Regions from separate parts of the Homo sapiens genome. Here region 2 is linked to region 1. The links come from fine-mapping of genetic effects on gene expression. Tissue or cell type: whole blood. Region 1 holds a variant in brackets; the other region holds the start of a gene. All regions are shown on one strand. Distances are between the middles of the regions.

The links. PIP is the estimated chance that this variant, and not a neighbour inherited with it, causes the effect.
Region 2: RGS18 starts here. The variant in region 1 is fine-mapped to the expression of RGS18 in whole blood (TOPMed, PIP above 0.99).

What each region holds. Positions count from the first base shown.
Region 1 is chr1:192,032,417-192,043,249 of GRCh38, reverse strand. No RefSeq gene overlaps it. Among named protein-coding and RNA genes, the nearest start is that of RGS18, 120 kb to the left of the region's middle. The variant C/G (reference allele first, on the strand shown) is at 4,444.
Region 2 is chr1:192,152,111-192,163,309 of GRCh38, reverse strand. It overlaps RGS18 (regulator of G protein signaling 18), which reads right to left and starts at 4,848. Exons shown (of 5, transcript NM_130782.3): 1 at 4,554-4,848; 2 at 3,989-4,090; 3 at 2,871-2,932. The coding sequence starts at 4,672. RefSeq lists a silencer at 9,797-10,091.

The DNA.
Region 1 (10,833 bases):
CGCCTGTAGTCCCAGCTACTCGGGAGGCTGAGGCAGGAGAATGGCGTGAACCCGGGAGGCGGAGCTTGCAGTGAGCCGAGATCGCGCCACTGCACTCCAGCCTGGGCGACAGAGCGAGACTCCATCTCAAAAAAAAAAAAAAAAAAAAAAAAAAAAAAAAGGACTGATTTTTACATTAACAATATTTTATACATTTTCCTGTAAGGAATACTCAGCCTGCTATGGTTTGATGCTTTTCCAAACTCTAGGAGGATGGGGTATTTTGTTGCCTGTAGACGTACTCTTTCCCTCAGAAGCTTATTATTCCATGCTCTGGTTGATTCTTCCAATGCACCCATTTTGCATCTACCATGGGGTGATGGAAATAGTTTTATGAGGAAACTCCAATCTAAACTCTCTATGCCTTACCTGACTGCCATCTTTGGTGGCTGTACAAATGTAAGAGCACATATTTTTCCCCTTTCTATCTAAAGCCTTGCCATGATTTTAAATAATTGAACATATACGCACTAATTAGTCTTACATTTGAACCTCTTAATTTTGTGACCGTTACTCAGTACAATTCTTCTGCACTCTGATTTAGCCATATATTTCCACAGTCGAACACTGCTATGAACTAAGATGTTTTCTCTATGAAATATTAAATTTAAGTGTTGTCCTCTCAAATTATAACTTCCAATTATTTTTGGTCTCTGATTTAATACCACTCCTGCATTTTCTCCAACTGTTCTCAGACTTTCTTCCCCTAAATGTTTTTTTTTTTTTTTCTGTAAATTTATCAGTCTTCTCTTGCTTTGACTTCCTACCCTATACGCTGTGGTCCCCATTCTTCAACACATTACACAATACAGTTTTCAATTGTAACATATTTCGTTTCAGAAAAGTGTGATAGAAGATCAAATGAAGTGTTTGAAACACAAAAACTGCTACATCAAACAGAAAATTCACGAAAAATGTAAAATTAAAAAGTATCTTGAAGGAGTTAAGAAAAAGAATGATGTGTAACTTCCAATAATAATAGCTTGCCCATATATTTTAAAATAGACAATCATGGATAAATCACTCTCGTATTTAGATTCCACTGGGCACTTTTAAAGAGTGATGTAACTATTTTATTTCAAAATATCACTATTTATGTACAATAAAAAATTTTATACCTTTCTAAATCGAATTAAAAGTTTTAGATGTCAATCTGAAATATATGAGATATGCATAGTTTTTCAAAATTATTTTACTGTGTACCTCAATATAAAGGTTTGAAAATGAGTAGTTTTAAAGGAATAAATTTCATAATCTTCAAATTCCAAATGTATTCTCTTCTAACAATGTAAATTTTCCTTTCCCACCTAGCTTTTCATATTTTCTCTTTCTCTACCTTATAGAGGGAAAAAGATACGTACAATTTACTCATCCAGAATCTTATTATAGTACATTTCTTAGTCATGAAAAATACTTTGGGACATCTAAAAATGGAAAATTATCTCATCAGAGGTCTTACTGCCTCTTCTTGTCTTAAACACATTGCTATTACACACAAAGCATGACTTCAGAAATAACTTGTTTTGGCACTTGTTTGGATCCTTACAGAGTATGTGGGCAGCAACAGTGATGGGAATTTTGTTTTAAGGAGCACACATCTTTCATCCACTGGCTTTCAAAAGAGGCAGAGACCTCATGGAGAAGATAGATGAGGGAAAGCAAAAGGAGTGTTTGGTTCAAAATATTAAATGAAAATAAATGGTCTTTTCTTCCACCTACTCACAGGTGTGCAATTCATTTTGTATATATTCATGCTTCTATGTTCTGTCATTAGCTGGAAAGTACTTTTTAATAGATGAAGAAGTATATGTTAGTGTAATTGACATATTTGAAGATAACTGTAATGTTTTAGGGACCACAAAAATTTTAATGTTCCAATGGAGAAAAATTGCAGATAAAAATATGAATTTTTTTGTCAGCTCAGTGTGCATTTCATAATCAGTTACTGTGTTGCATTGTGTGATGTCAACTGGGAAAAAGCAGAGAGCTAGATTTCCAAGAAATCTCTTTTCAGTTTGTTTTAAGGTTAGACACGATGCCTGGAAAGATGCCTGGAACCCCTACTTGTCCTTGCTCTCCTCTGCTCTGCCTCTTCATTGCTGTCACTGCTGACCAACAGCAGCCTGGGCCACCACAAGGAGCTTGGACTTGGCAGCTCCTGGGCAGCTACCACATGGAGGCAACTCCTGAGGTAGCTTGGGCAGAAAACCATCCCAGGTTCTTAGATTTTCTAGCAAGTCTGGACTTTATTTACGCGCATTAGTTCTTACAGAGGATTGATTAATGACAATTTCTTTGAGCTTCTGACTCTCCCCTTCTAGACCTCCACTTTCTAAGTTCGCCCCACATTCATAAAATTTTTAATTCCTATAGTAATTTCCTCATTTTGATAATACTCCTAGAACCTCTGTTTTATTTACTGAACCCTCACTGATAAATTTAACTAAGAGCCTATTTTATCAACTATGTCATGAAGACTTATTCCAGCACAAATCAATTATTTTTTTTTATATTTAATAAAATGATTAAAATTTTCTTATACTTTCTTATAGTTATCAACAAGTAAAATTATACATTAGATGTTGAATGGATTGCTTTTAGAAGTTCAAACATTTCTGCTTTATTAGTTTAGGCATAATGCATAAGAAGGTTAATAAAATTAATTAGGAATTTTATTCTTGACATTTATATTTTCTTAAAAAGTCATATACAGAAAGCAATGTTCCCAATCAAACTTTACCAAAATATTATGCCTTTTGTCATAATCTCACCATGTAAATCATTTATGATTTTAACTATATATTATATTCCTTTATTACAAATAAACAATAAGGAATAGCACATTGAATACATATTGTGATGGGGTCTTAAAATGAATTAACAATAATATAGCTATATAATTTTAATCTTGATTGATTTTAGTAAAACATCATTAAACAGGTGTTCCAATTTGTTTCTCTTCAGTTTTTATAATATTTGGTTTTAAAATAATATTCCTCCAAACATATAGTATATTGTATATTTGAAATAAATGATGAAGTTAGGCTTTTTCTAAAAAAAAAATCTGATTTAGATAATTTATTTTAAAATAGGGTTTTGTTCATATTAGACATTATACATAAAGTAAAAGAGCTGAATATGCAGCTCATAGTTGTTCAGAAAAATATATTTAAAGCACATGATAATAATAAAGCATTTTGTCAACATTTATTGTGTTGATAAAGATATATTGAAATTTAACAAAATCTTAATTCTCTCATATTATTTTGAAAGACACTAAAATATGTAAAATGCCTCTATGTGAAACTCTGTTGGTGGATTCATAGAACTAATACTGTTATATCTCATTCTAGCATTCAAAATTATTCATTTAGGGGATGTAAATTAACTGGACAAATGTCACCTTCATCATATGAAAACGAATACAATTTTACTTATTTTAAAAATTCAATATCATGTTTAGCATTTTAATAAATTTCATGATAATTAGAATACATCATCTAGAAGATTTTCATGTTTAGTCTTATAATCATAAAAACAATTTTAAAATAATTTCTATCATATTCCAATTTTGTTTCAGGAAAGTTTGATAGATCATCAATTGAAATTCATGAAGCATAAAAATTACATTAAACAGAAAATCTGTGAAAAGAGTAAAATTAAAAGTAATTTTAAGGGGTTAAAAAAAGGATGATATATAATTTCCAATAAGAATAGCGTACCCCACCAAGCGCGGTGGTAATCCCAACACTTTGAGAGGCTGAGGTGGACGGATCACTTGAGGTCAGGAGTTCGGGACCAGCCTGGCGAATATGGTGAAACCCTGTCTGTACTAAAAACACAAAAATTAGCTGGGCAAGGTGTCAGGTGCCTGTAATCCCAGCTACTCAGGAGGCTGAGGCAGGAGAATCACTTGAACCCAGGAAGTGGAGGTTGCAGTGAACTGAGACTGCACCACTGCACTGCAACCTGGGTGACAGAGCAAGAGTCCATCTCAAAAAAAAAAAAAAATAGCATATCCATGTGTTTTTAAAATAGACTATCATGAATAATTCACCCTGGTATTTAAATTTCATTAGGTACTTTTAAAAGAGTGATGCAACCATTTTATTTCAAATATCATTACTTATATACAGTGGAAATTTTTTGCTTTATTGTTTTTTAAAGTGTGATCAAAAGGTTTAAATGTTAGTATAAAAATGTATGAGATGTGCACAGCTTTTGAAAATTATTTTAGGGTATACCCAAATATAATGGTTTGAAAACAACAGAGCTATCCTTTATTTTTTCAGACTTTTCTCTCATCATTCTCCTCTTAAGTCCTCTCTAACCTAGCTATATCAAGCTTTTTGTTTTTTCAAAACAAAGTTCCTTTCCTTGTTTTGAAATACCTACTTTAGACAA[C/G]TTCCTCTGTTGATTGCTCCATAAAGTTTCCATGGAGAATGTAGTGTGTACCCCACATTCGTAGTTAAGGAAGCATCATAAGCTTGTGTGAACATTGTAGAATACATGAATGCTGAGTTCTTACTGATCAGGGACCACATTTTCAGTGTCAGAACTACCTAATATCTTTTGAGTAAATCATCTTTATACTTATTTTTATATATTTCATCTTTAATATGTCTTTCAATATAGAACACAGAATGAGGGTCATGTATTCCACCTTGGCCCCTAGGATATACTTGCTAGGAGTGCATTGTTCTTCGGTGAAAAGACATTGAGGAAAACATTAAGAAACAGCCTCCTAATGGACATTAAGATGGTCTGTGTAAGGATAATGTCCTAATGGACACTCTATTAAGTGTTTCTTTTTTCCTTTTCCTTTTTTTTTCTTTTTTTTTTTTTTTGAGACGGAATCTCGCTCTGTTGCCAGGCGCCAGGCTGGAGGGCAGTGGCACAATCTCGGCTCACTGCAACCTCCGCCTCCCGGGTTCAAGAGATTCTCCTGCCTCAGCCTCCTGAGTAGCTGGGACTACAGGCGCGTGGCATCATGCCCAGCTAATTTTTGTATTTTTAGTAGAGACGCGGTTTCACCATGTTGGCGAGGATGGTCTTGATCCCTTGACCTCGTGATCTGCCCACCTTGGCCTCCCAAAGTGCTGGGATTACAGGCATGAACCACCACGCCCGGCCTCAGTGTTCTTTTTCTGTAGCATTTATTTAATAAATTGCTTTAAAGTGTTGGAATTTGGAAATAATTGTGTCTGCCCTTGGAAATGTGGTTTGAGATTTATTGCAAAGCCACTGTGAATTGTGTATCAAATCAAGATTTCCTTTTTAGCTGACAGCTGAAAATCAGAGTCCAAATTGCAGATTCCTCTAATAAACAGTATAAAGTGCTTCATAATATGCATATTTGTATATGTTGTATTTGGCTATGTTTAATCTCACTTTTTTCCTTTCTCACCTATTTTTAATTTATGCTATCTTTCTATATATTATTTCATGTTTTTAAGCTGTCTTAATTTATTTTGGGAACAAGGTGGGATTAACATTAATAGCTTAACAGTTTTATAAAATTGCTTTGATGATTTATATTTCTCATTTGCTAATATTCCCAGTGTGGGAATTTGAACCTAACTCAACTTATTTCTGCCATAAATCCTTACACTATACAGTAATGCTTATGTTATACATTAGTGCATATAAAGAACAAATAAGAGCAGAGACACATACACTCCAACTACGTATCACAATCCATAGGGATTTTACTAAGACCTTGCTGTTCAAGTTGGAATAAAACAAATATTTTTGGAGAGGAATGACATCAGAAGGCTAACATAAGGTCTCACAAAGTTTATTGTAAACATTGTCAGGAATTAATTCCCAAACTTACTCATGCACAATGGTTTCTCATTATACCCAGAAACAATTAAGTCATGAGGGCAAATTTACCTTAAAGCATATAAAAAGGTAAATGAATAAACCAAAATATTAATGAGATAAATGTATGTATTTCATACTGATTAAAAATGTACTAATTTATGAGCTTATAAAAAAGAATTTTAATAATCATGTTATATCAAAAACTATGTAAATTACATTTTCTTATATTGCCAATATCACTCTATATACATGAATTTGGCCTTTGTGCTGGGTATACTGATTTTTATTCATTTAGGCCATAACACAACCACCTGAATATTTCTGGAATATTGTTCCTTGACTAGCCTGGTTACTACCATTGACTTTACCTGTAGTGATTGAGACTGTTTAGTGACAAGTAACAGAAATCCATTGGGAACATTTGACAAAAAAAAAAAGAAGACAGGGATAGATATGTTTCTAGGTATTAAAAAGAAAATGGAACCAGGAAATACAATGCTACCTAAACCAGCTAGACTAAGATCAGAATTTCATTTCCGAATTTTGCTAAAGAAGGGGCTCATTGTCAGGGCTTGATTCAGCACAACTATGGACATAGAAGAGCCACATTGTCCAAATGATAGTTGTATGCAGGATGAAAAAAGGTAGTCATTCTTAATTAGAATGCTTAATTTAATACTGACACTAGAGTTAAAAATAGGTCTTGTTAGATTATTTATCAGAATATAATTTGAAAATCATAATCTTATTTGGGAAAACTAACCTTGTAAGAACATATGAAATTTTCATTGGAAATACATAATTATAAATATAAATAAATTCAGATGTTAACATGGTAAAACTAAGATTAACCTATAATGTCTATTAACCTATAGTGTCTAGAGTGCCTATGAGTTTACATGTGCATACACTATGCATTCTTTTAAGACTGGCACCTTTGCTCAGAACAAGCTTTTGTGATTCATCCCAGTTGTCATATGGATCAGTAGTTTGTTATTTTTATTGCTGAGTAGTAGCACAGCAGAATTTCCTTGTCCATTCTCCTATTGAGAGAGAATTTGTTTTCTTCTCATTTATTTTTATTTTTATTTAGAGGTAGAGTTTCCGTCTGTCACCCCAGCAGGAGAGCAGTGGTACAATCATAGATCACGGCTCACTGCAGCCTGGAACTCCTGGGCTCAAGCAATGCTCCTGCCTCAGCCTCCCTAATAGCTGGTACTACAGGTGTGTGCCACCACACCTGGCTTGTAGTTTTAATTTATTATAAATAAAGCTGCCATGAACATTTTTGTAAAGTCTTTATGTGGGTATATATTTTTACGTTCCTTGTGTAAATACCTAGAGATCATATGGTAATAATCTGTTTGTTAAATATATAAGAAACCTATACACATTCACAAAGTAGTTGCACTATTTTGCATTCCCACCAGCAAAGTATGAGTATTCCAGTTGGAATACATTCTCATCAACAACTCATAAGGCTTATCTTTTAAAAAAATTTTAGATAATGTGATGAGTGTCTAGTGATATCATGTCATGATTTTAATTTACATTTCTTTTACAAATAACATTCTTGAGGTTATTTTAATGCACTTACTGGCCATTCATATTTTGTTTCTGTAATATTTGAAAAATCTGTTCAAATATTTTCCCGGTTGATTTGTGAAAAGTATATATTAAGACACACTTCTGTTGACAGATATATTAGGGTGAATGTGTCTGTGACTATTATATGGCTTGTATTTTAATTTTCTAACAGCGTCTTTTAAAGACCACAGGTTTCTTATTTTGATGAAGTTCAATCAATCAATCATATTTTATATAATGATTCATGCTCCATGTGTCATATCTAAGAAATCATTATCTAAGAGTGAGGTTTTAATTTTTCCATATAGATATTTAGTTGTTCCAGCAACATTTATTGAAAAGACCATTCTTTACCATTGAATTGCCTTGGCATCTTTGCCAAAAACAACTGACTATATACATAGAGCATTTCTAGATGTCCTATCTTATTTTATTGATGCATGTATCTTTACACCAATACCATTGTCTTTATTACTATTCTTTTGTGATGAGTAGAAATCAAGTGGTAAACGGTTTCCAAATTTGTTCTTTTAAGAATTGTTTAGCTAGTCTATGAACTTTGTGTTTTCATAAAAATTTTAAAGCAAGATTGCCAATTTCTAATTCTCTCTTCCTCAAATACACTCTTGAAATTATGCTTCACATTGCATTGGATCTATATGTTAGCTTTGGGAGAGTTAACAATATTTATTCTTCTAATTCATGAACATGATGTATCTCTCCATTTATTTAAGGATTTAAAAATATTTCTCTTGACAATGTTTTATAGTTTTATTTTTATGTCTTTCACATGGTTGATTAAGTCTCTTTATGATTTGGCTATGTTTTGGGAATTAAAAAATTAATTTTTAATGTTTTATTAATAAACTATAGAAACATGAACATTTTGTATACTTTATAATTTATGACCTCTTTAAATTTAAATATTGGTTCTACTAATTTTATATGTATTCTTTAGGTTTCTTTATTAACACTGTCTTGTCATATGCAAACACTTAAAATTTTTTTTTTTCCCTTTCTGCTCTGTGTATTTGTTTTTTCTTGCTTTATTGCAATGGCTAGAACCTTTATGGCATTTATTTTTTTTTTTTAAACTCAAACCTAAGGTCCTGAATTCCAGTCTAATTGGTTTCGCTTAGACTGAAGAGAATGGTCTGGGGTGGATTTTCTAATTCTATTCCTTCACTGTGTGCAATACATCACAGCTACTTTGACATTTGAAGAGAAGTGATCAAGTTTCTCTTATCTTGCTCTTCCTTCCTTCTCATTTAAATGGCAAAACAAAATATCGTAAGAAGTATGTGGCTAATCTGTTAGGTAAGAGGGCAGGCTGATGAGGCTAATTTTTTTTAGCTGATCAAATTGCTTAGTAGTAGTACACTGAAATGTAAGGTGATATGAGGCTAGAACTTCATTTTTTCCCATTCACCATTGTTTGTCTGATGTGTTACCATTATCTATCTATTGTGTCAGAACAATGCCTAACACAAAATAGAAATTCAATATACATTTGCTGGCTAAAGTGAATGATTATAAGCGATAACTCTCAGTCTTAGCTTTGTAACGATGGAATGTCTGACAAAAATATATAGTCATTAAACATAACTTTGTAAACAAATACAAGGCACTGTTGTAGGCAAGTTAATTCTTGAAACATTTTCATAACCACATAGGTGGAAAATACTAGTTTATGTATTCTTTCTGTGCCATGCATTTTAAAGCTGAGTGAATTCTTTAAAACATGAAATGGTATGAGTATAGAAAATTGATAGAATCTCTAGACCAATTATGAAAGTTTTTCAGTGAGGCATATGCTTAGTTGATAAGATAAACTGAAAAGGCTGGGTACAAAAAGTCACACTGTTTAGGCAGAAATAGTCCCAATGATGCAGGTTCCAGGAGGCCTTTGAAGAGGAAGCCACAGAGATATGAGAAATTGAAAAGGTTAAGGATAAAAGTACTTCCCTGAGGTGGAGAATAAATAAATGTATAAAACGAAGAGCAGAAAGTCAGGAGCAATATTTCTGAACTGGGTGTTTAATCTGCTGTATTATTTGTTGTTAACATGGAGGTATGTAATAATTGTTTAATATACTCACATATAGTGTTTTATAATGACTCAAGTTATTTTGATTGTATAAATTTGTTTTAATAAGGCACTGTGTGCAAAAAAATGACATTTTTGTCAATTGTACAGACCATTTACTCATATTAAAAGATCCTGATAAAATGAACTGCCATTAAAAAATATGTACTATATTTAATGAGTCTCTTCAAAATATTGACAATTCTTTAAATCTGGTCATAGGTAAATAGGAATTGTTTACTTTTAACTTTTGTATATCTATAGACGTCTTCAAAATATTTAAAAATGGCTACCTGTAAGTCCCTCAATTGCTCATTCTACAACTATTTAGGGAAAACCTACTAAATGACAGTAATTACTCTATGAAGTTGGGATACAGCATTGTACAAAACAAAGTCCTTTCTTTCATGAAACTTAAATACTCATGAAAACAGATAATAATTACACATCAATATGAAATATAATATACATATAAGTATTAAAAAAGAGGCACGAAGCAGATAGAGCATAGAGTGATACTGGATGCTCTTTTAAATCAAATAAATTCTCTCTCATGAGATGACATCTGGCAGCAGCATAAATGATGTAAAGAAGAAAGCCATGCAAATAAAAAGCCCAGAGTATTCCAGGTAGAAGGGGTAGCAGAAGCAAAGGCCACAAAGAGAATAATGCTTCATTTGTATGAGAAATGCAAGACCAGTGCTGTTCAAGAAGAGGTAGAAAATGACAGAAGAAAGACAGCCAGGAGATGAGTTATTCAGTCTCTTTCGAATTCTGGCAATAACTTATTCTAAGTCTGACAACATACCCGGATATATTTAACCAAGTGAGTATATGATTTCAGTAGCTATCTAAAACATTAATAGACTTTATTATTTAGAGCACTACAGAATTATAAGGAAAGGAAGTGGAAAGTACAGTTCCTGTATGACCTTCACCCTACCCCATCCCCATAGATTTTCCTATTAATATCTTGCATTACTGTGGTACCTTTGATGAGTCAATGTTGATACATAATTATTAAGTCCAAAGTTTATATTAGGGCTTACTCTTTGTATTGTATATTTTATGAGTTTTGATAAATGTATTCACCATTATAGTATCATTCAGACATTATAGTTTCACTGACCTAAAAATCTCCTGTGCTCCACCTATTCATTGCTCTCAACTACTGATTCATAGTTACGCCTTGTTCAGAATGATATATAATTGGAATTATATAGCAAGTTGCTTTTTCAGACTGATTTCTTTTATTTATCAATCTGTATTTAAGATTCCTGTGTCTTTTTGTTGCT
Region 2 (11,199 bases), 120 kb before region 1:
CTAATTGATCATCATCCAGTTGTAACTAGACTGGAAACAGAAAAAAAGATTATTAAGCTGGTTAGTAAATATTATTTTTTATAATAGCAGCAATCATTGACATTTCTGTAGTGTCCAAGATTTATTGGTTTCTTATTCATCATCTCATTTAATCCTGACAGAAATCTATTTCTGTTGGAGCTAAAAACATTATCTTCATTTACAGTCGAGGAAGCTGAAAGTCAGAGTGATTAGGAAGCTTAACTAAGATTATACAACCATTTATGTTTTAGGAGAAAACTAAAACTCGAATTTCACTGGAACTCTGGACTAACTTCTAGAAACAAATTCAGTTATATTCTTTTCCAGGGGATGTGCTAAGTTTAGGAATCCACAGATGAAAAGATGTATGTTTCCTTCTAATAAATACTTATATTATAAAGAAATTAATCCCAGTCCTCTTTTTTTGTTGTTGTTGTTTTGTTTTCTTTTCTCCTTCTCTGACTGGTGAGGAGTCTAAAGGGCAGTGCAGTACCAAAATGTTGAATATAAGAGGAGATTTTAAAATAAACACATTTGGGGGACATGAATTATGGAAGCAAGTTTTACACAAGTTATTGTAATTAATCTATAAAGAGCATATCTGAAACTGAACCAAAACAATCGGAGCAAGAAAGTGAGTACGGGGCAAGTTTGACATAGATTTGGCAAGAATTTTAACAATAGTTTAGAAATTGTTGTATACTGGGGCTGGGCATGATGACTCACGCCTGTAATCCCGTCACTTTGGGAGGCCTAGATGGGTGGATCACTTGAGGTCAGGTGTTCGAGACCAATATGCTAAAAATACAAAAATTAGCCAGGTGTGGTGGCCTGTGTCTGTAATCCCAGCTACTCCAGAGGCTGAGGCAGGAGAATCCCTTGAACCCAAGAGGTGGAGGTTGCAATGAGCTGAGATTGTGCCAGTGCACTCCAGCCTAGGCTACAGAGCAAGACTCTGTCTCAAAACACAAAAACAAAACAAAACAAAACAACAAACAAACCAAAAAAACAAAAAAGAAAACAAACAAAAAACAGCAAAAAATGAATTGTCGTATACTGGAAATGAAGAAAAGTGAGTACAGTAGTTGAGGAAGGCTGTTTAAGTTACTTTTCCCAAAAACAGGAAGTGATAGTAGCTAGTCTTAGAGTGAAATATAAGGAATACAAGTTAAACTTTGTCAGCACAAACTTTCTTACCATAACTCTCCATTCTCATTGATTACATCCTTAACTAAGTTTAAGCCTTGATTTCTCTACCTATAAATATTACAGTTCAGAGGCAGCCATCTACTTTCATTGGCAGAGGGAAAGTTTTCAGGTATCATCTACAGATATAGAATTTTTATATCACTAAATTCAGAAGAACATGAAAAGGTCACCAAGACCTTATAAAGAGTTGGACAATTAAGGAAGGGAACAAAACAAAACAAAAATATGTCAGAAAAGAAAAGTTGTTGTTACATTAAATGGAGCATAGTATTTGAGGGTGAATTACAAATATTCCACTCCCAACTGTCCTGGCAACAGGAATCCTTTCTTCCAGTAGACACCTTAAAATTGTGAAAGACACGGGCAACGCTACAAGGAGTAGTTAGAGTAGTCTGGCTAACCTCATCTTGGAAGGGTCTGGGAAGAGCTGGGAAATGATTGTATTTCAAAGACTAAGGTGAGAAACTGGACAAGTTTAAAGTGCAAAAAAAAAAAGCTGTGGGCTTGAGGTGGATGTTTGGTAATGATAAAGCATTGCTTTTTTTGCAGACTCTGACAAGTTCAGGGTGGAGAATAATAAATCTGTGATTACCTAGCTGCATCACCTGCTCAGTTGAGTCTTTCTATCTGAAAGAAAGCATAAAATGAATACAGACAACAAAGTTCACTCACTTGCTACCTTATGTAAATTGACCCTAAAGAGTGGCAATCCAGGGAGCCTGCCTCCTAAGCCATGCTATATTATAACAGTGTTCCAGAGTCAAATGAGGCCTTGATGCTTGTCCTCACCCTCCATCTCACAGACAAAGCTCCACCTTAAATACATACTCGATTCTCAACATTTCTACAAAATTCTGCTTTAAAAATAGACAATTGATATGAAGTACAGAATGAAGAATTTATAAATTTTTTTTAAAACTGTGTTTATGGAGCGGGGCGCAGTGGTTCACGCCTGTAATCCCAGCACTTTGGGAGGCTGAGACGGGTGGATCACCAGGTCAGCAGATTGAGACCATCCTGGCTAACACGGTGAAACCCTGTCTCTACTAAAAATACAAAAAAATTAGCCGGGCGTGGTGGCGGGAGCCTGTAGTCCCAGCTACTCGGGAGGCTGAGGCAGGAGAATGGCCTGAACGGAGGCGGAGCTTGCAGTGAGCCGAGATGGCGCCACTGCACTCCAGCCTGGGCGACAAAGCGAGACTCCGTCTCAAAACAAAAAACAAAAACAAACAAACAAAAAAAACTGTGTTTATGTGGGTTTCCTGTATGTCCATCGAAAGAATTACTTGATATTTTTAATCCTTGAACAATGAAACTAACATGAATAGTTCGTTAATCATGAATTTGATAAAACCGAAGATTTCATTCAAAAATCGGAAAAATTTAAAAACTGAAACTAGCTACAGTATAAATAACTAATATTTCATCCACAGTAGGTAATTCTAAACAAAATGAGAACTTTTAAAAAAATTTCCATTATTTGACTTTTCTATTACTTAGTTCTGTTGATCAGAAAATTGAATTACTGAAAATTAACAATCAGACAAAAATTTTGTGACCTATTGTTTCGGATAATTACATGCATAGTTTGTGTAATTTTCCATTAAGCACACAAAGTATTTGGTGAAAGTACCACTAACCTCTATGGGAAAGCAGTTTGTCAAATGATTCACCCCATTTCACTGCCTCTTCAGGGGAGACTCTGTACAAGAAACAAAATGTTTTATAATGGAGTGTGCAGAAAGTCTGTTTATGAATCTGTTCTAACATATGCTATTTTACTGCTCTTTTCAATTATATTTCACAGTTTCTCCTTTGATTATAATATAATGAAAATTGCATTTACATTAGAAACTTTGAAAACATTGTTCAATTTTCTTTTGGAATTTGTCTGTTGAATAATGTGTTGAAATAACATTATTTTTTTTCTCATGGATATGTGAGTTTTATTTTTTAATTAAAAATTAATCCTTTTTTAGGTTAAAGGGCACAGATAACAAATATAAAGAAATCAGGTCAACTATCTGTTTAAATTCAGCAAGTAGAAAAAAACTAAACTCACAGTATCTTTCAGTTAAAAAAAAATTATACTGCAATTTCCTTGAAGCTGTAACCACACTAGGCTGCAAATTTTTTTTTTAAACGGATACAGGAAGTTTGACTAATAAAGTTTCAAAGGGATAAGAAATATAAGATATTTTAATAGAAAAAATATTCTAGAGATGTTGGTAATGTGGAGAATTGAATATATTTTCTCGGATCTTTTTTATTATACTCTAATTTGGAAGAATTTGTATGAAACTAGTATATAAGGTTTTTGCATTTTCTTTTTGAATTAAATAAATGCTAAGTATTAAAAGACATTATTTGTGCTTTACTTGCTATAATGCGTGTGTTTTTTCAAACTACTGAAGAAAGAGATGAATATCTCTCTGCTATGACAATATTGCATTGTGAAAACTCTTAAATTAATGAGCATTTTATCAGGTTATAAGGAGTAAAACATGTCATTTAAAACTGACAGGTATATAATTTTAAAAGAGCAGCTTTAAGTGTTCACGTGATTATTCAATTCAAGCGATTTAATTCAAGTGATTTAATTTTATGAAATATTTCTAGTCTCTTCAAATGAAATTTCTAACTTTCCTTATATTGCTGTGTAATTTTCAATAAATCAGAAATCCCTAACTGCATTTTTCTTAAATCTTTAATGATAGAATCAGCAAAATCTTCCTCAAAATACTGAAAATTTATTCACCTTGTTTCTTTGGCCAAGTGCCCAGATCTACTGGAGCGGGTGTCTTCATGAAACTCAGGTTTCTGCACAAGAAGACTTAGTCTATTTCTTTTTTCCTTAGCTCTGTAATAAAAAGGCCTTCATGTCAGGACAATTTAGATGACAGTTAAAATCTCTCCTGCTGACTACCAGAAAATTTTGTAGTTGGTAAAAACCCACGCCCACCCATACCCACACACTCATGAATCCCATTTAAATATTGTATTTGTGGAGGAATTAGGGTAACATACGAAAATGTTTCTCCTTTTGCTCACCGACAATCAAGTATTTGAGATTATATTTCAATAAAGATTGCACTAGTTCCTCTATGTGGCTAACATTATTACACTTTTTTTTTAATGAGAACACTTTAGATTTCAGTTTGTTGTTTAAACCTAAGAAATAAAAAGGTGTTTTTTTTTCCCAAATTATAGCAATACAAACAATATATTTTCCACCCAATAGTTCAAAAACAAGAGGTAATGAATCTTCAACCTCAATTATGCTTTTAAAAGTATAAGGCTGACTTAAAATTGTACAATTTTACCTGATTTTGGCTTCTTTGCTTGTTTCTTCTTTTCCTGAACCATGTATTAACTTGAAAAAAGTTTTTTCTTTTGATTCACACATATTTATTTGAGAAAAGAAAAGCAATGTTGTTTCCATCTTCTCTCTAAAATGAAGAGATGTCTAATTTATTACATCCTTCCCTAGTTCATTTATTAATACTATTCCATACATATACATAGTAGAATAAAAAGTTATCACAACTCTTACAGTAATGTTTACAAAAAAGAAGTCAAGAGCTGCGTTTCTTTCTGTCTCTGCAGAAATGCAGAACTGAGGAAATGAAGTACAATTTGGTCCTAAGTTGTTTAGGGAAATGATACCACAAATTTGCAAAATGACTCTTGGTCTCTAAGATAAAGACTAGTCTTACCACAGTGCAACTTCTCGTTCAAGTTTGCGCAACCAGAATGATGCTTTAATAGACTCAAATAACACTGTCATTTCCCACAGGAACTTTTCAAAAAGTTTTTAAATGTGTGGACTGTGTGTTAAAATGTGTTATGGCAAAGTATTATATCAAACATTAGGAGATATTTTCTCCAGTTCTTAAAAAAGTATTTTTCTTATTGTTATTACATGAGTTAAGTAAATCACATTTAACTGACATAAGATTATGTAATGTTAATTACATTGGCTTAACATATTGTAACAAAATAAGACAATAGATCAGAATTTTATGGTTAAAAAAAGATTGTAGAAAGCATTTAATTTAACAGTTTTGGGCTGGGCACAGTAACTCATGCCTGTAATCTGGAGGCTAAGGTGGGCAGATTACCTGAGCTCAGGAGTTCAAGACCAGCCTGGGCAACATGGTGAGACCCCATCTCTACTAAAAATACAAAAAATTACCCAGGCACGGTGGTGTGCACCTACAGTCCCAGCTACTCAGGAGGCAGAGCCAGGAGAATCCCTTGAACCTGGGAGTCGGAGGTTGCAGTGAGCTGAGATCATGCCGGCTACTTCACTTCAGCCTGGGCAACGGAGCAAGACTCTGTCTCAAATAAATAAATAAAGTTTTAAGCACATATCTATAGAATGATTTTAGACATTTTTGAAATTTTTATCAGTCTGTGATGAAATGGAAAAAAATATGAAAAGTTTTTTTTCTTAAAGCTTTATTTTAATTCCTTTGATATAAAGGACTTGCTATTTTGAATTTGCTCTCCTGACTCTTTTGTTGTTAAAATGTTCTTTATAATGTAAAAATGTTCTTTATAATGACATGGATTAAGTAGAGATGGTAGTTTTTATATTTTAATGCCTTTATTAAAAAAAATGTTGACAACTCCAATTGGTTTAGCCTCCACTTCTTTCACTGTTTTATAGAATACAAAAGTCTTACAAATGCAGTTCTAGTCCATAATTCAAATTTTATTGAAAAATAAACCAAAGTTCACAGGCATTAGGTAATTTAATCCTACAAAGTTTCAGAGACAGGCCAGTGGAAAATCTGGAATTATCAGAGCCTTTGATCACCTACTATGTGCTTTAGTCCTTCCAAGAATCTTTGATCTCCAGTAGTGAATGCTTTAATCTAAAATGGTATATATTGAAAGCTGAGTTATACAAACCTAAAAGAAAATTTTATTTTCAGTCTTTTTGAATTATTTTTTTACCAAGACAATTTATCAGGGATACCAGCTAAAAGCTCAAAACATTTATCTATATGAAATTAAAGACTTTCTAGTATATATTTATACATATACCCCCTGATTCCATGACTTGTACTTTGAACATATTTTAAATCTCTCACCTTGGCTGAGAATTGAAAAATATTATGTATGATGGCATTTTGCATTGAGCTTCTGCTGGAAATGGATACTGATAATGCAGATTATGCTTCCACCCTGCTGTCCCCTAGTAATGATTAGTATCCACTGTGTTTATATCAGTTTAATCCTATGAAGGTGAATGAGCACAAGAGAAAATCATAGGAGCATGGACATCATCCAGTCACTAGGACTATAACTTAACTGTTAACTCAGAGAAGTTAAAGACATAAAATCAATATATTATTTTTCATAAGATATGTTAAATTTATGTGTGAAGTGTGCTATACACAATGCTGATAGAACCGTGGAAAAAGAAATTGTGAAAATACGGGCACAAGTTGCCGGGCACGGTGGCTCATACCTGTAATCCCAGCACTTTGGGAGGCTGAGGCAGGTGGATCATGAGGTCAGAAGTTCAAGACCAGCCTGGCCAAGATGGTGAAACCCCATCTCTACTAAAAATACAAAAATTATCCAGGCGTGGAGGCAGGTGCCTGTAATCCCAGCTACTGGGGAGGCTGAGGCAGAGAATTGCTTCAACCCGGGAGTCAGAGGTTGCAGTGAGCCGAGATCATGCCACTGCACTCCAGCCTGGGCGACAGAGTAAGACTCCATCCCCCTCACAAAAAAATAAAAAGAAAAAGAAAAGAAAATATGGGCATAAGTGAACTACTCCACAGGTCTGTGTAAAGTTCTGAAACAGAATTGGAAAAGAGAGGTTTGGCTCTACTCTGCGTATGTGGTCAGTTAGGAGCTGGAACCAGAGAGGAAGAAAAAGGTGGATTCTGAAGGTGACATCAGTTAAATATCATTCTTTTGGGCATGGTCAGTTATTATTTAAATATGTATACTTTTAATGATAAGGATTTATATATATATGTGTGTGTGTGTGTGTATATATATATACCCACGTGTTTCCCTTTTCTAGCTCTCTTCACTCCTTTGTGCAGGCCTGGAATCCTTTTCCATTAGCATAAAGACCTGTCTTCAATATTTTCTGTAGTGCATATCTGCTAACAATAAATATATTCAAGTACTGATTTTCTGAGAAAAATTTTTTTTTGTTTATATTATGAAACGGCTAAATCAAGCAATTTAACATATGTATTATCTCACGTGCTTATTGTTTTATGGTGAGAAAACAAAATATATGATTTTATGAACAATTTTCAAATATATAACATATGAAAAAAGTGTCTTTTTCCCCATCTTCCGTTGGAGAATATTTTCACCAGAAAGAATTATAGGATGATTTTTCTTTTCTTTAGGACTTTAAAAGATTTTACACTTTTGTCTTCTGAACTCCATTATTTCTGTTGAGAAATCAGTGCCAGTTTTCTATGTTCTAATATGTCTTTCTTCTCCTGTGACTACTTTTCAAACGTTTTTATAACTAGTTTTAAAACTTTGATTAAGATATAAATGGTGTTTGTTCTACTTGAAATTTGTTGAGCTTCCTGGTCTTGTGGGCTTTAGTTTTTATCAAAGTTGAAAACTTTTAGGCACTAGTTCTCCATTTTTTTGTTTCTCTTTCTCCTATCTTCAGATATTCCAATTACAGTATGTTTGACTCCTTAACACGGTTCCACTGGTCATTAAGGAACTATTCCATTTTTTTGGCCTCTTTTCTGTCCCTTTCTCAGGTTAGACTGCTTCAATTGCTGTGTCTTCAAGTTCATTAACCTCTTCTTCTCCAATAGCTAGTCTGCTGTTAAACTTGTATAGTAAAATATTCATTTCAGCTACATAAGTTCCATTTTTATAGTTTGCATTTCCTTCCTTATTATATTCTTGTTGGTTTTATATTCAAATACTTAAAAATATTTATAATAGCTGTTTTGAAGCCTGTTCTGAAAATGCATCTCTGTAATTCTGGGTCTGCTATTATTGACTGATTTTTCTGCTAATGATGGCGTATTTTCCTGCTTCTTCAGATCTCTAGTAACTTTTTATTGGATGTTGGGCATTTTGAATTTTATGATGTAAATATTCAGGATTCTTTCATTCTCCATTTAATGATGATGAAGTTGGTCTTAGCCAACAATCAATTGTGTATCACCTCCGTCTTAAAGACCTGTGTTTAAATTTGTTATACTGGATCTAGGGTAGTTTTAATTACTAAGGTATAATGATTCTTAAATCTCTAATGCATTCCCAGGGTGTTCGATAAGGCTTTTCTGCTTTAGATGATAAGAGCTTAAAAGTACCTGAACCCGGTATAATCTCTGTAAATTAACCCACATCCCTGGTGGGAATCCTTTGTCAGTACTCATGCAGTTTTGTTTTTCATCTGAGCTGCTTGGTATTCAGCTAGACTCAAAAGTACTCTTATATAGTATTTTTAGACTTTTTCTAGTACTTTGTCTTGTAAATTTCAGTCTTCTCAATCTCCTTGAATTTAGATCACTATTTCCTCAACTCAAATTAGTGTTTTCGCTCTATTTAAGGAGTACCCCTATAAACTTCTCAATTTCTAAATTCTAAATTTGAGATTTATGTTCCTTCTCTGCACTGCAGTCTTTTTAAAGGAAGGCAGGGCTTACTTTCTCTGTCTCTCTTCTGTTATGGATCACAGTTCTCTATGCCTCTCTATGCTTATTTTCAGTGGTAAAAACCAGTGTATTTTGTATTTTTACAGTTTTCAAGCTGTTTATGGCAGGAAGTGATGTATCAGTTGATCATAATAATCATGGTCATCTTTAAACATATATATATAATATGCATATACAATTTTTGTAAATGAATATTATACCCTGTTACCTGAATTCCATTAATACTGTTATTGTTCAACAAATTTATCATAGTTTTAAAATTAATTTTCCTATATTTCTCAAAAGATAGATTCATATAAATATTATTAATTTTAACAACTCTTTTTCAGTTATCATATCTTTATTTTCTAGCCTAATATCATTGGTTTACAACTTGAGTACAGTAAATTAATAATTGGAATCCTTGTCTTCTTTTCCTTAGCATTAGGAGAAAGTAAGGCCAACTAAAATGAGGCTAGGTTTCAGATTTATATTTTGTGTATGTGTGCATTCATATAGTTATGTTCCTTATTCTCTTATTATAACATTGCATAGAATTTGACCTTTGTACATTTCTATTATTTTTCATGTGAAATTAATTTTCCTGTGCTTTTTTGAATGAGGTGGATTTCAAGAAAGTTTCTTTGGTTTAATTTATTTAATATTAGTAATCACAATGGTAATAGTACTAGTAATCTAAAAATAATTTAAAAATGAATAATTAGTGGCAGTTCTAATTTATCATATTCTGTGTCCTTGAGAAAAAAGAATTCTTAATATAGAAAAAGGGACATGCAAATGCAATAGAGAATAGTTTAGTTAAAAGCACTTTAGTCTTGGAAATTTGATAGCAAGCATCAATGTAAACAGAAAATTGCTACTGTGTTGGTCATTGTTTCTAGTCTTTTATAGTGGACAGATCTGGGATATATATAATTCCTGCCTGTAAATGTTTTCTAGTCTTTTCCACTATAAATACTTAGAAACAATGACTAATGCAGTAGCAATGAGACCTAGATTGTGGTCTTGAAATGTCACTTCTCACTCCAAGAAAACTAGGTTTGCTAAAGATATCACTGATTCCAGGTCTCAGACAGGACATAGCAAAGCTAAGCCTAGCAAATATTGTCATATCAGTTAGCAAATAAGCTGGCAAAGACTGATCAATTTAAAATTCTTCAAGAATTTGGTGGGTTTTCTACTAACCAAGATGACACCATTTGAACTTCAATAATTTTAATAAGTGCAATGGATTGAACAGATCAAACGTACTTATATCTATGAGTGCATAATGCTATTAAAAAAGAATTGCCTACTTTCAGATTATCAATAGAAACTAATCCATTGTTATTAAAATTGTTTAAGAAAGGGAAAAAATTAAGCAGGTAGCCTGCATTTTTTATTAACTCTATCATGGATAACAAAATACTGCATGAGATAAATTTTTTAATAAAAATACTCTAACAAACACATAAAAATAAAATAATTGCATTAGAATCTCACCATTTTAACCCCTAACAAATGATTAAACTTAGGTATTGTGATTCAGTGGTTGTTAAGATCATATAAAGACATGGCAAAATTATGTGCTTTTTATAGCCTTGCTATACCCTACTTATAGGTTTTTAAAAAGACCAAACTTAAGTCTGATTCATTCTCTGGACCCAGCTGCCAATGAGTAGAAATGACAGAGGACAGAAGATGGAAGAACATGTTGAACTGCACCATAAATATGCAATCACCAGAATCCAGACCCTGGGGGCAACTACAGCAAAGTTCAACAGATAAATTGTAAGAAAGAGAAGCAGATTAAAATAAGAGGGAAATAGAATTGTCTCTGTGGATCAAGGGAAAAATGTAAAATTATGAACCAAATAAATATGGCTTTACAAATAAAGGACTAATTGCCTAATGAGTTCTGCCTGAAAGTGTGAATGTTTGTTTTTAGGTAGGAAACACCCATGTTCCAATACCTATCAAGCAGTCAAAATCAACATAATATTTTACTAGCTATTTTGAGAATAAATTTCATAAACAGCACGAGGTAAGGGAATATGAAAAGAATTTATATACCAGAAACCAACCAAGTCTCCCTTTTCACAGTTATCCCCAAACTACTCTCAATCATAGTAATTTAATTTTCTTTTTTCTTTTTAACACAGCGACACTGCAAATCCTGGATCACACTTGTCTTCCTACATTTATAATACTCCAATGGGGTTTCACCATGTTGGTCAGGCTGGTCTTGAACTCCTGACCTCAAATGATCAGCCCACCTTGGCCTCCCAAAGTGCTGGGATTACAGCCATGAGCCACTGCG